Regions from separate parts of the Homo sapiens genome. Here region 2 is linked to region 1. The links come from fine-mapping of genetic effects on gene expression. Tissue or cell type: lung. Region 1 holds a variant in brackets; the other region holds the start of a gene. All regions are shown on one strand. Distances are between the middles of the regions.

What was found. PIP is the estimated chance that this variant, and not a neighbour inherited with it, causes the effect.
Region 2: it holds the start of PLPPR4, and the variant in region 1 is fine-mapped to the expression of PLPPR4 in lung (TOPMed, PIP 0.98).

The regions. Positions count from the first base shown.
Region 1 is chr1:99,176,207-99,187,908 of GRCh38, forward strand. No RefSeq gene overlaps it. Among named protein-coding and RNA genes, the nearest start is that of PLPPR4, 82 kb to the right of the region's middle. RefSeq lists a silencer at 7,677-7,844. The variant C/T (reference allele first, on the strand shown) is at 4,883.
Region 2 is chr1:99,261,902-99,266,901 of GRCh38, forward strand. PLPPR4 (phospholipid phosphatase related 4) reads left to right here and starts at 2,591. Exons shown (of 7, transcript NM_014839.5): 1 at 2,591-2,770. The coding sequence starts at 2,693.

The DNA of each region.
Region 1 (11,702 bases):
TCCCTATTCAGAGAAATAGAAATTAAGAGAGAAGTATATGTAGTTAGAGTGGTATTCATCTTGTTTTTAGTTGCAGAACTCTTTTACTCTTCTGCAAATGAAATATTTCAGAGAACCTCAAAATGTGAAACATTAAAAAATTTCTCTGCAACATGCTGAAAACCCAAGTTATACCTGCTCAGACACTTCTCACATCTTTCCCCAAAACTTGGAAGCACCCGAGATGCTTCCTGGTCTCTAAGGCATTAAGGAAGCCATTGACAAATAGCTGGGAAACCACTAAGTCAGACAGGTGTGGGTTCCAGTCTCAGCTTTGCATTTACTTTTTCTAGGAACTTGAGAAACTTAACTACCCTGATTGATGGTGTCTTTTTATTGTAAAGATAATAAGAGATAATGGCCATAAAACATTAGTACATTACCTGAATAACAGTATAGATGCTCAGTAAATATCTTTGTTGGAAGAAAATTAGAAGTTAACATTGAGCTCTTCCTAATAAATTAAATTGATGAGGTTTGAAAATTACTTAAATAGTAAGCTTGTATTTAAAAGATCCTTTGACCACATAAAATTTCATTTGGAAAGAACTGCAGGTTTTTCATATCATCTCTATTTTTAGAGTGGAGATGAGAAGAAAAAAAAACACAAGAAAAAAGCACATGGCTAGGACCACTCATTATGATTCAGAAACATGAGTTAGAAAGTGCAGCTGTCTCCCTGCTTTCAGAGCAGATAGCGGCATCATTTTATAAATGAAAGTAGAGATAAAGTCACTGTGATACACATTTCTGCAATAACAAACCAGGGAACATTAGAGACAAATAAATACTCATTGCCAGGGGAATATTTTCTCCTGGGTAAAAGGCATGCATTAATTCTCACAATAGAGTCATCTAATAAATGATTCATCTAGACACTAATATTTAATCAGTTCTTATCTTCAATTGCTCTAAGAACCTTTTAAACACTATAGCATATTTAAACATATTCAGGGTTATTACTTATTCAAGTTTAATTCCTTAGTCAAACTTGTTTTAAAATGAATAAATGACACAAAAGAAAAGAATACTATCGCTTCATACTAAATGCTAATGTTGTAATTATTTTCTTTAGATAAGTAGATTTTTACCTGTAATGTTTTAACTTAGAATTTTTCTGACAATTTTAAAAGTTAATAGGAACTATTTGTTAAGCCATGCAGTTTGCTCTGCGGTTACTTACAAAATGGATTTCAATTTTTCTGTGGAATTGCTTTTTAATTTTTTACAGCACTGCAATGTTTTACCTACTTAATTTCATAATGTGAGTCATCAATAATATATTTCCTACATTCAGTGAAACCAAGTGTGATGCCAGATTGAAAAAATAATGAATTTTCTTTACATTTAGGATTTCTTTTCACATATATGACAATCCTTAGATAAATAAAAATGCTGTCCTGGATTATTATACTTTTCCACAAGAGGGCTCTTGAAAGTCAAAAATATTGCCCATGATTAGTAATCTGCTTACATCTATTGGTAAAAACCAGAGAAACAAGATTTTGAAATATTTCCTGGATAATTAAATTTTTAAAAAATACTTTAAATTAAAGAGTTAACTAATAGTAATCAAAGCCAAAATCGATGGAATGCTTCCTGTGTGCAGGCCATGTGGTTAGTGCTGGATATGTAGCCATTATTATTATTCATTGCACTATAGAGAGTCAGTTACGGTTCAGCATGAAACTTTGGAGATAAGATTGCCTGAGTTTGAATCCCAGCTCTGCCATTTGAATTATTTCTTTGACTTTGGGCAAGATACTTGGTATTTAACTTTATCAGTCCTTGGTTCCTTTTCTGTAAAATGCGGTTGTTGTAAGGATTAAGGGAATTAAGATACATAAAGCAATTAGAAGAGTGTCGGGCACCTAGTAAGTGCTTTGTAAGTTTTAGCTACTACTATCATCACAGAGGACAAAACTGAGGCACATAGAGATTAAAAGATATGCCCTAAATCGTGCGCCCAGTGTCTGGAAAGATACAAGGTTTTGCCCCACCAGTGTGCTAGAACATGTATTAGCCAATATGCCTCTAATATAAGAGAAGATTGGCAACACCATCTGCTTATTCCTACCCCCACTGACAGCACTGGGGGACCCATCCCTGCTTAACCACACTGCCCACCTGTCCACGGTCCTGGATTATCCATACCTCTCAGGGTTATCTCTCATCGTAATAATCATTGATTTATGTATTGAACTCCGTCACGAGTCTACTTGAGTTCCAGGACGATATCTTATTTATTTTTGCTTTCCTAGCACATTTTGGTTAGCAAGAATTAACAAGGATGATTTAAAAAAAATAAGGGTGTGCTAATATTTCCAACTGTCCTATAAAACGATTTTTGTTAAACCCATTTAACAGATGAAGAAATCGAAATTCTAAGATCAAGATCTCACGGTTTGAAATAGCCATACTATTGGAAACCAGATCTGAATCTGAAGCCTGTGTTTTCTTCACTATAATGACCCACACATGTGCTCAGGGTTGTTTGTGCATTTACTGACTGAAGACAGACTGTGAAAATTCCACCAAGAGACATAACGGAGTGTTTTCAATGTATATATAGGCTAAGGGGAGATTATTTTTGCAATAACTCAAGTATTCAAATGAGGATTTTTCCCTTCAAATAGTTTTGGTCTGTGTTTTTTTTTAAATAAGGTTAAATTTTTTTCAGATTGATTTTATAACTTCTCTTTTATAATTATTTTTGTGGAAAAATTTAAAAATGTTATGAACACTAAGAATAACAATATTATACAATGAAAGTGTATAATAAGGAGAATTTCCTGGTCAGGGACTGGGTTAAAACTTCCTTCAAAGGGAGATATCTGAACTGAGAACCAGAGGATGAGTCCGTGTTAACCAGGTGAAAAAGGGAAGGAAAGAATGTTATTCCAGGCAGACGAAACCATTTGCAAAGGCCCTGTAGCAGGGGACACCATCCTAATGAGGAGGAATAAAAAGAATAAAGGTAACGGGAAGCAGAATGGTTCAGGAGGGGCTGAAAAGTAAAAGGCAGACAATTCATTAATTTTGTAAATATTTATGGGAAGCCTACCACACCCCTGCTAGTAATGTAGGTACAGAGGAATAAAAAAGTAATAAAGCATTTTTCTCTCAAGGAAATTCTTAATCTGGCAAAAGATGGCTAAACGCACACACACGCTTACCTCTAGATATAATGCAATGGAAGCGGTATTGTAATAGCAGTAAGAACAAAAGGCTGTGGGAGCACAATAGAAGGAGAAATTAATTGTGATTAAGGAAATATCAAAAGAAGGAATTGGCCAATATTTTATTGGGTAATTGACATGTTAGCTGATCCTTAAAGGTATTCCAAGCAACAGCATGAAGAGAAGCACCAGGTGTAAATAGTGGCCAGAAGTCTATTAAATAATAATTTGTTTGATGGATCTGTTTATTTTAAATCTCAGAGGAGGTTCTATTCTCTGCAGAAAGTAGAATTAAACTAGAAAGCAGTAACAAAAAGATAAACAGAAAAAAACCTTAATAATTGCTATCATGTATATAGGTGTTAAAACACGGTTGCGAAAACAAGTAATCACAATGAAAATTAGAAAATGTTTGGAAATAAATGTTTGGAAATAAATGATAACATGGTTGACATATCAAAATACATAACTAAAGTTATGCTTAGGTAAAATGTGCAGGCTTATGTGCATATGTTAGAAAAGAATATTGAATATCAACACTCTACATATCTATCTGAAGAAGCAATGAGAAAAGCAAATTAATCCAACGAAAGTTGAAGAAAAAGATGACACAGGCAGAAGCCCAATGAAGAGAAAACAAACATAAAATTAATAAAGAAGACCAAAAGTTGGTCCTTCAAAAATAAAACACAATTTATAAACCCCAAGGTCAAGAAAAAAAGAGAAGTCAAAAAAGTCAGAAATAAAAGCCAGGATATTACTTTAGATTTTATAATTGTTAAAATATAATAGAAAGATATAAACAATGTTATGTCCGTAATTTCAATATTTAAATGAAATAAGCAAATACCATTAAAATATTATTTTTTAAATAACGAAATAAGGATGGGAAATCGGAATTGTTCTATATCTTAAGGAAAAAAAGAAATGAAGAATCTCTTTATAGAGGTAGTTATACTCTTCTTTCTGCTTCCTACTAGCCAAAAGGTAACAATGTTTACTATCTCTCAGCATTTCTCAATTGCCGCCACTAGGTGGCAAACGTTTCCAAACTATTGCAGGAGCCTGCAGTGACTATCAGAGTTTGTTGGACACCATTTTGTGTGCTCCCCAACAATCACAAATAGAATATTCTAAAATGGTCTCATTATTGTCATTATAAGCACTCTCACTGTTTTCATGAAACAAAAGATAGCAGCAGGAACAAAACTGCACTGAAAAAAATCTAAACACAGGTTTTATTGCAAGAAATTGAAAACCTACTCTAACAATAGAACCTTCCACTTCAGGCTCAGAACAAGGCCAGCGAAGTGGAGCAGGCCTATCACAGATTCCCATCTCCATGACAACCTTTTCAGTTCCATGCACAATTAAAGCTACAGTATCAGTTTTTTTCAGGAAAAAAAAAATCTGAGTCCTGGCTAGTATTCATTTTTTATAATAGATTTGAGAAATTAAATTGATTCTAATTAGTGCAGCTGACTTAGTGGGTAATAATAATTCATTATACAAGCAGCCCTAACTCTCTTCTCCAAAAGCAAATGAAAATATATATTTTGTATGGTTTAATGTACTATCATTATCACTATCCTTTTTAGCTTTCTTTGACAACAGCTCTTTTGTGCCAGGCATTCTCGAAAATCCTGGCTTAATTCCCCTTCAGG[C/T]TATACTTGTGGATAAAAAAAAAATCTGTTCATTTCATTAGCAATTAGATTTCAGCCAGATGGTCTGGAAAGTGTTGGGACTCCCTCAGAATCCTGGAATAACCTTTTCTCCAGATACATGCTTCCTTTCGTCTTCTGAAGACATTTCTGGAGTTTTTAGTTGTTACTGAAAAAATGGGTAGAGCTCAGATTTCTGCTGCCCTGAAAGAGATTGTTCAGAAATTTTGAAGAGTTAAAATATATATATTCAAAGTGTTAAAAAAATGCAACTTGTAAAGAAAATTTAGTGGATCAAGAGTTTAGCGTATGGAGAACAAATGATTGGTGGAGGAATTTATGACAATAACATTTTCAAGTACCATATATGAAGATATTTAAAAATAGAGTGACCAGCTATATTTTTCCTTTTTAAAAAATTAATAAAGATATAAAAATGGGATGTGAGTTTTCATGTTATTTCATATAAGCAATAACATGAAAGACTAGTTGAGTTTAAGACATTTCTGAGATTCCTAAGAATGGAATCAAGGTGGTAAAACATTACCAAGAGTTATCATAGAATACTATGCCATGAAAATCATAAACATGTATTTTTTTTCTTCTTCCTAGAAATGTGCAAGTATAACTTTTCCTGAAATCAGACGACTGAGGCAGGTGACTCTTCATGAACCCTTTCATTACTAGCATCTTGTGATTTTTATAGGCATGAAATGTAGATACTATGGCACTGTTGCTTCATTCATTTTAACCATCTCTAACACCCTATGATGATGACCGGGAGAAATAAAGCAGCCAGTTTGCAATCCAGCTTACTTGTGGATAGATGTTGTCATTGCTTGAAGAAAGTATGATTACTACTACCTTTTTGCGTGGTCAAATTGAGACAAAGAAAAGTTAAGTGTCTTCCCCAGCACTAAGTCCAAGAGAGATGACATATGTTTTATGTCTGTCCAGCATGCCTTTGGTCAACCTCATTTACTTCATTCTTGCCTGGAAATGAATGGGGCTGGCTCAACAGTGGACATAAAACGGATGCCTAGACAAAGAGAAAGCTCTATCTCCTTGCCAAATGTTACATTGAGGAATGGGCATGGGTCATAGCTTTGCCAAAGAAAATTGTTTCCTCCCAGAGAACTCTGAAGCTATTGAGAAAGACATAATTTCTTTTTTTCTTTTTCTTTTCTTTTCTTTCTTTCTTTCTTTTTTTTTTTTTTTTTTTTTTTTTTTTTTTTTACTGAATCTTGCTCTATTGCCTGGCCTGGAGTGCAATGGTGCAATCTCGGCTCACTGCAACCTCTGCCTCCCGGGTTCAAGTGATTCTCCTGCCTCAGCCCAGCCTCCCGAGTAGCTGGGACTACAGAAGCGTGCCACCACGCCCGGCTGATTTTTTATTTATTTTTTATTTTTTATTTTTAGGAGAGACGAGGTTTCACCATGTTGGCCAGGTTGGTCTCAAACACCTGACCTCAGGTGATCCACCCGCCTCAGCCTCCCAAAGTGCTGGGATTACAGGCATGAGCCACCACACCTGGCCAGAGATAATTTCTTTTTGCTTGTAGGGCAAACATAAACCTGAAGTTATTGTCATCTTATAGGGAGAGCTTTTCAAAATGAAGCCAACACAGGTAAAGGGAAGAAAATATAGCTTACACAAACAATGTTTAACATATAGATTTAACACATGGAGACATAGAGGCCTGGTTAGATTTTTAACTGTAAGGTCGAGCAAGAGAAAATACCTCTAATGTTATTGTATAAGCTCCTTATAGCTAGAACCTGACAAACTCATCCAGATCTTTGTAAGTTGTAAGCATGGGATTTAAAAAATGTTAATTTTGCTTTTTAAATTATCATATAGTCACAGACTTTCTTGTACAGGTCTTTGAATTTTGATACTTTTATAGATTCAAATAACTACCACCATTATCAGGATATGAAAAGAGTTCCTTCTATCACCTCAGACTCCCTGGTGTCATTTCTTTATAATCACAGCACTCCATTCCCCTAATCTTTGGCAACCACTGATCTCCTGTCCATTTCTTTTATCTTTCTGGGAATTTCATATAAATGGAATCATGTGATATGCAACCTTTTGAGACTAACTTCTTTTTCCCATTATAATGCACTTGAAATTAATTCAAATTCTGATCTGAATCAATAGTTTGTTCTTTTTTATTGCTGAGTAGTGTTTCATTGTACTGAGGTATCATAGTTTCTTCCTCCATTACTCACTGAAGGACTTTTGCACTGTCTCCAGTTTTGGGAATATATTATGAAGAGAGCTACTATATTAACATCTGCGTGGAGGTTTTTGTTTGAACGAAAGCTTTCTTTTCCCAAAAAATCAGAGTTGCTGAGTCATAACTACATGTTTAACTTGATGAGAAACTGTCAAACCATTTTATGTAATAGCTGTACCATTTTTCACTACCACCAGCAATGTATGAGAGTTTTAGTTGCTCTACATCCTCGTCAGCACTTGGTGTTGTCAGTATTTTTTATTTTCTGCATTCTAATAAGTGTGCAGTGGTATTTCATTAATGCTTAACTTTGCATTTCACTTATGGCTAATGATGTTGAACATTTTTAATATGCTGCTTTGCCATCCTTATAACCTTCTTGGTAAGTGTCCAAGCTTTTGCCCATTTTAAAAATTGATTTCTATGTTTCCTTACTGTTGCATATTGAGTTTTTTGGGTTTTTTGGTTTTGTTTTGTTTTGTTTTTGATGGAGTTTCACTCTGTTGCCCAGGCTGGAGTGCAGCGGCACAATCTCAGCTCACTGCAACCTCCGCCGCCCAGGTTCAAGCGATTCTCCTGCCTCATCTCCCAAGTAGCTGAGATTACAGATGCCCACCACCATACCTGGCTAATTGTTTTATATTTTTAGTAGACATGGGGTTTCTCCATGTTGGCCCGGCTGGTTTTGAACTCCTGACCTCAAGTGATCTGCCCACCTCAACCTCCCAAAGGGCTAGGATTACAGGCATGAGCCACTGCATCTGGCCTGAGTTTTATATATATTTTGGATGAGAAATTTATAAAGGAAAGAGGTTTAATTGATTCACAGTTCCACATGGTTGGGGAGGCCTCACAATTATGGCAAAGGAGAATGAGCAAAGTCACATCTTACATGGTGATAAGCAAGAGAGCATGTGCAGGGGAACTCCCCTTTATAAAACTATCAGATCTCATGAGATTTATTCACTATCATGAGAACAGCATGGGAAAAACCTGTCCCCATGATTCCATTATCTCCCACTGGGTCCCTCCCATGGCACATGGAAATTATGGGAGCTACAATTTAAGATGAGATTTGGGTGGGGACACAGCCAAACCATATCAACATGTATATTTGGTCAACTTATCAAACAGACCTTTGGAAACCTAACTATTTAAAGGACTAAGGAACTTCCAAGAGAAGCTAATTCTAAAACACAGGACAGGTAGACACACACATCTAGTAACAGATTTCTGAATTTGAGTAGGGGAAGATTTTTGAGTACAACATACTGTCACTCAGAATTGTTTCTGATACTGTCCTTGTTTGAATTCTGGAGAAGGCAGAAAGTCAAAAGTAAAAGATATATTTCACTCAAATATACCTGATTTTATCTTTAATGGAAAAAAAAATGAGAGTACCTTTTCCCCCCAATTTATTGTAGAGTGCCAGAATCTATTTGCCCTGCATTTGCCCAGTGCATCACCAGCAGCACCCAGTGGAATAGGCAATAGTATTTAGCTGAGATGGCCCTGCTGATTCCCAGGAAAGCAAGCAGTAGTGGTGCCCCTTTGCGGTGGCAAAGTTTGGAGAAGACTGTTGTCCTCAAGAGTAGAAATGGTTATCATGCCTATTGTAAATGACATCTCATGGAAGTGAAAGCAATATGTGACAGCTGCCAACTAAAGCAACTGCCCAGTGGAAAGGCCAAGAAAACAGAAGGCAGGAAGGAGAAAAACATGGCCAAAAGCACAATTGCTCCTAGGATTATTCTGAGAGCTTGGGAGACACAGGGTCCTAGTTTATCATGTCAGTGCAAGGGCCAGTGAATCATAGGTTACTTGTTGACATTGAATTTGGTGCCTATTTTAGTCACTAATTGCATTGTAATAAGCTGTACATTTGAATAGCTTGTTTCTTTTTAAGTAGTTTAAAGAATAATAAACCAATGGAAGCTGCAGCTTACGACTAATATCTCGGAGTTGATCTTGCCTTTCAAAAGGCCTGTGCCATTTATATGCTTTTAAAAATATGATTTCCCAGGCTCTACTCAGGAACTTCTGTTTCAGTCACTCCAAAGTGCAGCCCATATGTCTGTATTTTTAACAAGCTCCACAGAGTATTCTGATCCAGAACAAGACTTGAAGACTTGAAAACTCTGCTTTGAAATTCGATAAAGAAAATGAAACAGCTTATATGATGATGAAATAACATAGAATTCAAGAAGCATTCAATTTTAGTAACTACTTTTGGAGTACTTTAAGTTAACTTTAAAGATACATTCACAAGTCCTGCAGGTGAACTTGTGTTTTTTTCTGTAGACCTGAAACCCATGCAGATAGAAAGGATTTGAGTTGGACTATGGGGATTCTGTAATGGGCCACCCAGATCCCCAGTTCAGGAAGGGAGAGTTTACTCCCCCAGCTGCTGGTAGTATGGCCAGGGAATGACCCTCAACTGCCACCCCACTTCAGTGATTGCCTTTGTTGCAGAAAAATGTCTCACCATAAGTTACACACTCTTTCTAGCATGGCTTACATTTAATGACTGCTGAATGTCAGGGGAAAACATCTCCTGCCCCAAATTAGAACAGACCTCTAAGGCCATTCCAGCTTCCAGGCTGTCTTTCAGGTCAGCTGAGGTCTTCATTGAGATTGCATTACATCTCAACTTCTCCTTCTATCCAATCCTGCTGTCTTCCCTTCCCTTCACAGAAGTTGATCCCAACAACACACCTGAGCAAATGTTCTGCATGCCAATCATCATCTCAGAGTTTGCTTCCTAAGCAACTCAGCCTGTGTCAACCCCTTAGCTTGCAAATGGTCAAAACCAAACTAGCTTAAAGTAAGGGAGAAATTCATCACAAGGATACTGGGCTATCTCAGGTTGAACTATGAAGAGTGGACAGAGCAGAGATGCAACCCAGCTTAGAAACAACTAAAATGACAGAGTGAAGACTGCCAGATCACTCTCTCATGTCCTCACATTCTCTTATGCTCTCTTCTCTTTCACTTGCTTTTTCTGTAATCCAGCTTCTCTTTTCCTACCTGGTTTATTCTCTCACTGTGGATGGGCTACTTCTACTGGATGAGAAATGTAGCTATTATATTATACATTTTCATATTTCTACAGTCAAAGAAGAACTATGTCTATTTTCTAATCTAGTTCATAAATTTTTAAGGAATATTCTGTTTGTCCAGACTTGGGTCAGTTTCCAAGGTCTGGACCAATCACTTGTTGTTAGGAGGCAGGGACAGGTAATATACCAACTTTCCCTGAAATCACATTGGGAGAGGAAGGAGATAATGTCCCTAAGAAGAAGGCTTTTCAATGCAGAAGGGTTTAAGAAATGGTGTGTGTAGGAGTGTATAAAACATATATAAGACTTGCTCTGAGTGGAAGTCTCTACAATATCTCCCCGCACACACACACACAACTATATATTATTATAATAACATACAACAATATGCTTTGTCTGAATGCTTTCCAGTTCAAAAACATCTTACTTGCCTCATTTTTATCTTTACAAGATATTTAAATATATAAGAAAATTAGTCGTAAATTATATTATTGAAAATTTCATGCCCATTATGAGTTAGATCTGGAATTCAAGCCTGATCTTCTGATTTCAAGTCTAAGTCCAAAAGTTGTCCACTTTTGCACCTACTTACTTATGATTTTTTCTTTTTTGAGTTTTAATTTCTGTGGGCACATAGTAGGTGTATATACTTATTTACATATTTTTTTCTAAAAACATATGAATCCTACTTGGTCCCCCATTAAAGTAAGACACAGTTATCTTTTCCTGAGGTGAGTATATAATGCAACCAAATGATTTCCAATTGTTTATCGGCCATTTTAGGTGGGTGTGCTTCTTGATGTCTATATTAAAGCCTTGTCAAATAGCCGATTGCTTATAATACCCATTCGTGGGCACACAGGTCGCTCTTCCACCAGCTTCCAAAACAAAACAAAAGACCAAAAAACCATCTTGCCAGAAATTCTCACCTGCAAATTATGCTTCTTAATGATCAATCTGCCAGTTAGAATGGCGATCATTAAAAAGTCAGGAAACAACAGATGCTGGAGAGGATGTGGAGAAATAGGAATGCTTTTACGCTGTTGGTGGGAGTGTAAATGAGTTCAACCATTGTGGAAGACAGTGTGGTGATTTCTCAAGGATCTAGAACCAGAAATACCATTTGACCCAGCAATCTCATTACTGGGTATATACTCAAAGGATTATAAATCATTCTACTATAAATACATGCACACGTATGTTTATTGTGGCACTGTTCACAATAGCAAAGACTTGGAACCAACCCAAATGCCCATCAATTGTAGACTGGATAAAGAAAATGTGGCACATATACACCATGGAATACTATGCAGCCATAAAAAGGATGAGTTTATGTCCTTTTCAGGGACATGTGTGTAGCTGAAAATCGTCATTCTCAGCAAACTAACACAAGAACAGAAAACCAGACACCACATGTTCTCATTCATAAGTGGGAGTTGAACAATGAGAACACGTGGACACAGAAAGAGGAACATCACACACTGAAGCCTATCAGGGGGTGGGGGGCTAGGGGAGGGAAAG
Region 2 (5,000 bases), 82 kb after region 1:
TATCACATACCTTCAGGTTTTTTTGCTATTGAAATTAGGTGGGTATAGGTTTAGTCTTATATTTCACCTCTTCTCAAATAAAAACACTGAGTTTCCAGGATGATAACATCTCTCTTAAGTTTAATATGTTCTAGCTTATTTTTTACCTCACCAAAAATTGTAAATTTTCTTGAGGTACCAAGAAGGTTGAAAAAAGAAAGGGCTCCAGTACCCACCCCCTCCACAAGACAAAGTAACATTGGTAGTAATGAAAAGTATAACTACTGATTAATGTAATAGTTAAACAGAATCAACAAGCACTTAATGAACATATACTATGTGAAAAACTATGCTATACGGTTATATAAGCATCACTTAATTTTATTGTTCCATTTATTTCTTCACTATGTACTGACAACCTACTCTTTGCCAGGCACACTTGTAGTTACCAGAAAACATAATAATGAAAATGTGCTTGACTTTACAGAGTTCACTAGTGGGTGAGGCAGACAAGATAAAAAAGGACACAGAAATACTTGATATACTATCAAATGGTGACAAATTCTATGAAGGAAAATAAAATAGTATAAAAGAATAAAGAGTAACAGAGGTCTGAGATTATGAATCTACTCGGTGCATCAAACACAACTTCCCTGAGGAGTTAAAATTTGTGCAGAGATATGAATTAAATGAGGGGTTAAGCCATGCAATTTTGGCGGAACAGAGTTCTTGGACAAAGGAACAGTAAGTACAAAGCTCCTGAGGCAGTGAAAGGCTAGGCTGGAACGGCCAGACCATTGAGGTGCAAAGTGATGTGAATGAGGTCCTAGAACCAGGCAAGGTGGCCAGGCAGGGCTTTAAGGAAGAGACGGGAAGTTTGGACTTTCCATTGAAGTGGAAGAGAGCTCTTGGAGGGTTTGGGTAGGGGAATAAAACAATTGGGTTTACTTTCCAAAGGACCTTTCTGGCTGCTGCGTAGGGAATGGTTTGTAGGTTGTGGGAATGGCAAATGCAAAAGCTGGTAGAACAGTTAGAAGGCCGTTAGGTTATTCCAGTCTAGGCAAGAGATGGCGGTCGCTGTGTGTGGTGGGGGGTGAGGGCAAGCACTGAGTTTAGGAAGAAGATGTAGTTCTCTTCTGATTACTTCTATTTTCTAAGTGAAATAAGAGTTAATGTCATGAACTGAGAATGAGGAGATTTGAGAAGTGAGAAGTTGTGAATGGGAAAATGGCTGGACAGAAAAAATTATAGAATCGTGGGGGCAACTCCAGGACCTACTTGGAGTTTGTGGTCATGAGTTGGATGTGAGACAGCATCATGCGGTTGTGTGTTTTTCTCCAGCCACTTTCAGTTGCTCTGGTAAGGGCAGAGAATTGGGTTCAACTAAGCCGGGATATTATCAGGTGAGTATGGCAAATTGGGAGGCGGAAACAAGCAATTATATTGCTAGACTTTGGAACCCAAGCCTGGCAGAAGAAAGTGGGGGCAAGAGGTGGTGTTGGCAGTGAAATGAGTATATTATTAGATAGGATGGTCCCATACTGCCAAAGACCTATTGGAGGAGCAACTAAAAAAGGGAAATGGATAAATGAGTTGGGAATTGGCCATCACATGCTTGAAATGGAGACTTGGAGATATTGGAAATGGCCTGGGACATGTGATCACAAAATTAGGTCATCTTTATTAGTATAATATCATGTCTCGTGTTTGCTGGGTCTTTCTCTCTTCTATATCAACTTGATACTTCTGGTTGCCAAAGTAATCACAAAATTGAGACTAGCCATGTATACTGCCAACAAGATGAAGGACTTTAGATTATTAATATCTGAAGACATACTTCTTTTTACTGTTATGATTGCAATACTGACACTGTTCTGGGGGTGTGACAGTGAGATTAGAACATACAGTAGCCTCTGGGCTCAATGAGGATGCCCATTACCTGTGCATTCACACATCTGCCTCTCTGGATGCAAGGAACCCACATCATTCCCACACAACCGGTAGTGTTTGTTAGTGGGTGCTTCGATATGGAAGGGAGATAAGGAGTCTCCTAGGCAGAGAATCCCCCGTAGGAGCTGTCATTCCTGGGTAGCAACAAGCTGTCAGTTAATGCCTACCTCAGCCTACTTTTCAGTATGGGATCCAAGATCTCATTTCGTGGAGGTAGGGGTTGGTTTTCTTGCTATGGGTCAGCGCGCTGGAGCAGGGCTTCTGATCCTTAGCATTCTTTAATAGCATTCCTAGAGTGACCTAGGAGGCTCCCCAGGAGGAGACTAGGTGGCTTAGCTCCTCAGCCTAACTACTGCAGAAACCAGGAGTGCGTCCTCCTTTTCGGATTCTTGACGTCAAGCTCCGACAGCCTTGGAGCGTCGCAAGGGCGGTAGAGAGCTGAGGGAGGGTGACAGGGAGGGGAAGCCATTGCAGCAACAGCTTGGAGGAGGGAGCTGGACGTCGTCTCTCGCCAGAAAAACGGGGAGCAGGAGCCAGACTAGGGGAGGAAGAGGACTGGCCCGCTCAGGGAATAGCTGGGTTGCTGCAAAAAGGGGCGGGGAGAAGGCGGGGGCGCTGCATGCAGCGCGCTGGCTCCAGCGGTGGCCGCGGGGAATGTGACATCAGCGGCGCCGGGCGCTTGGGGCTGGAGGAGGCAGCTCGCCTCAGCTGCGCTGTGCACACCTCGCCCGGGGGAGGACGCAGACCCGGGCAGGCGGCAGGGATGTCGGCGAAGGAGAGGCCAAAGGGCAAAGTGATCAAGGACAGCGTCACCCTCCTGCCCTGCTTTTATTTCGTCGAGGTGAGTTGGCCCAGTGCCTTGGCATAATGCAGATCCTCTGGGCATCTCCTGAGCGAATTCAGGTCCTGGACAGTGTTGGAGGCGCAGAGATCCTGCCGGGCGCGCGCGGCTGTCCCCAAATGCCCGACCCTCCCCTCTTCCCCTAGATTTCACAGCAGCTCCCCGAATGTGCCTGTGAATACCTGTCAGCCCGGGGTGATTACCATTAGAGGTGTCGCTGCTGGGTGGCCTGCAGGGAACGGATACCTGTGTGAGTGAGTGTGGTTTTAGTTCCTTGGCCCTCCTGTAGTGCCTGTGTGCACAACGTCCGCTAGTGCCCCAGAGGGGCCATGATGCCCATATTTCGGGATTTGTGTCTTCAACCTGCCGAGTACGTGTCGGGAACTCCGTGTGCACACAGCTATGCCTAGGGCATATGAGGGTTGAAGGTGTTTACATAGTACAAATATTGTTAATTGCTTTTATTGCTCCTGCCCCCCCCCCCCAAATCCTTCTCCTATTATATTATTTTGGTGCTCACATACGCTTCTGAAATTGGATCTGCATCTCTAAACATCAATCATCAATGTACTGGCCTCTTTCCACAGTAAAAAATACATATTATATATGTGTGTATACATAACTATATATAATATTTTAAATCTATGACATCATCTGATTTTACATGATTTGTATCTGAGTATTTACTGTGCTGAGCAGTATTATAGATAAACAATTAAATGCAGATGTATCCGTAATGACCCTCTAACTTACCAAAATGCAGTATTTGAGGGAGAAACAATTCATAGGAGTGTTATAAAGATTGGCAGATACAGTGATTCCGTGTACTGTGCTCCATTGCATTAGGAAGACATTTTTAAGCAAGAGGTTTATTAAATTACAGATACTGAAGGGTTGTATTGCATAGATTTAGGGAAATCAGATGGTTTTAGGCACAAAACTATATTCTGTTTAGTTAGAGTCTGGGTTGCATAGAGAATTATAAGACTGTTGCTGAATCATAAATATCCTTCTCTGGCCATCTTTTCAGCCAAATATGGAGGTTTAGCCCTTCGAAGTGCAAACAGTAGATTCTGTATTCAATGATTGTAAGGCTTATCTGTCCTGAGGAATAGTCACTGCCTTGAAACTTGGGAGAAGAGACATTGTCGGACTGTTCTTATAGGTAACAATATATTTGGAAGTTTTGTAGAAGTGTCATAGATTTTTTAAATAATTTCAGTTTCAAGAAAGATGTATGTGACTTGCATAACTTTCAGAGAAATGATGGGTGACCCCTGCATTCATGAACCATAGAAAAGAAGAAAAAAAAATCTATGTATTTAAAATAATGAATCCATTTATTATCCTTTCTCTTTTCACAAGAGATTTTTGGGAACATGGTTTAGGTAATTTTTGTTGAAAGATAATAAAGAGCTTTCTCAAGAAAAATGTAGGTAGCAGAAGATTCCATGATGAAAATGGTGAAGGAATAGAAAGATGAGATACCTGCCTTCAAGTTCAATCCATCAGACCACTTGTCGCATGGCTAATCCGTGTAGTTTTGTATTATAGTGATTTCATTTGTGTCTGAATCAATGACATTTGTCTAGGAGAAATCAGTTAATGGCTGAGTTCCATCTCCAGGAAGGAACACACCTGAGGTCAGCTAGAAGCTGACTACATGTGGGTTGCAGCTATATGGCTTCAAGGAAAATGCCCTCATGAAAGAGGAGGCAAACCAGAGAATTAAGGATGTGCCTTTACAGAATGTACGTGGGCGCTTTTGAGGCATCTTTAACCGGAGTACATGTCCCTTAAGCAAGAATTTTAAAAGTACAAGTGCCTCATAATGCAATTGAATTGTGTGTTTAGGAACAGACATCTCACAATTGTTACTTCTTTTCCATGAGTGGAAATAGCCCAGATTCATTACTTTTACTTTGGCCTATTCAGATACCCTCTATGAATTCCTTAGCAGGGCAAGCTGTAGAACAATTACTTGAACACAATTCATGGAGTTTAAATGAGCATTGATGACACTGTATCTTGGGGTTAACAGACTTCAAAGACAGAGCCACACAATTGGATTGCAAATTATCTTCCTAAAAATTAAATGCATGATGAACCACTAAAGAGCCTCCAGAAAATGGGAGACTGCATTAGTATAAAAATTATTTAAGGGTTTGACCACATGCACTATCACGCTCCTTTGAAATGACTCATTTTGAAGCTGGTGAGAATGCACTAA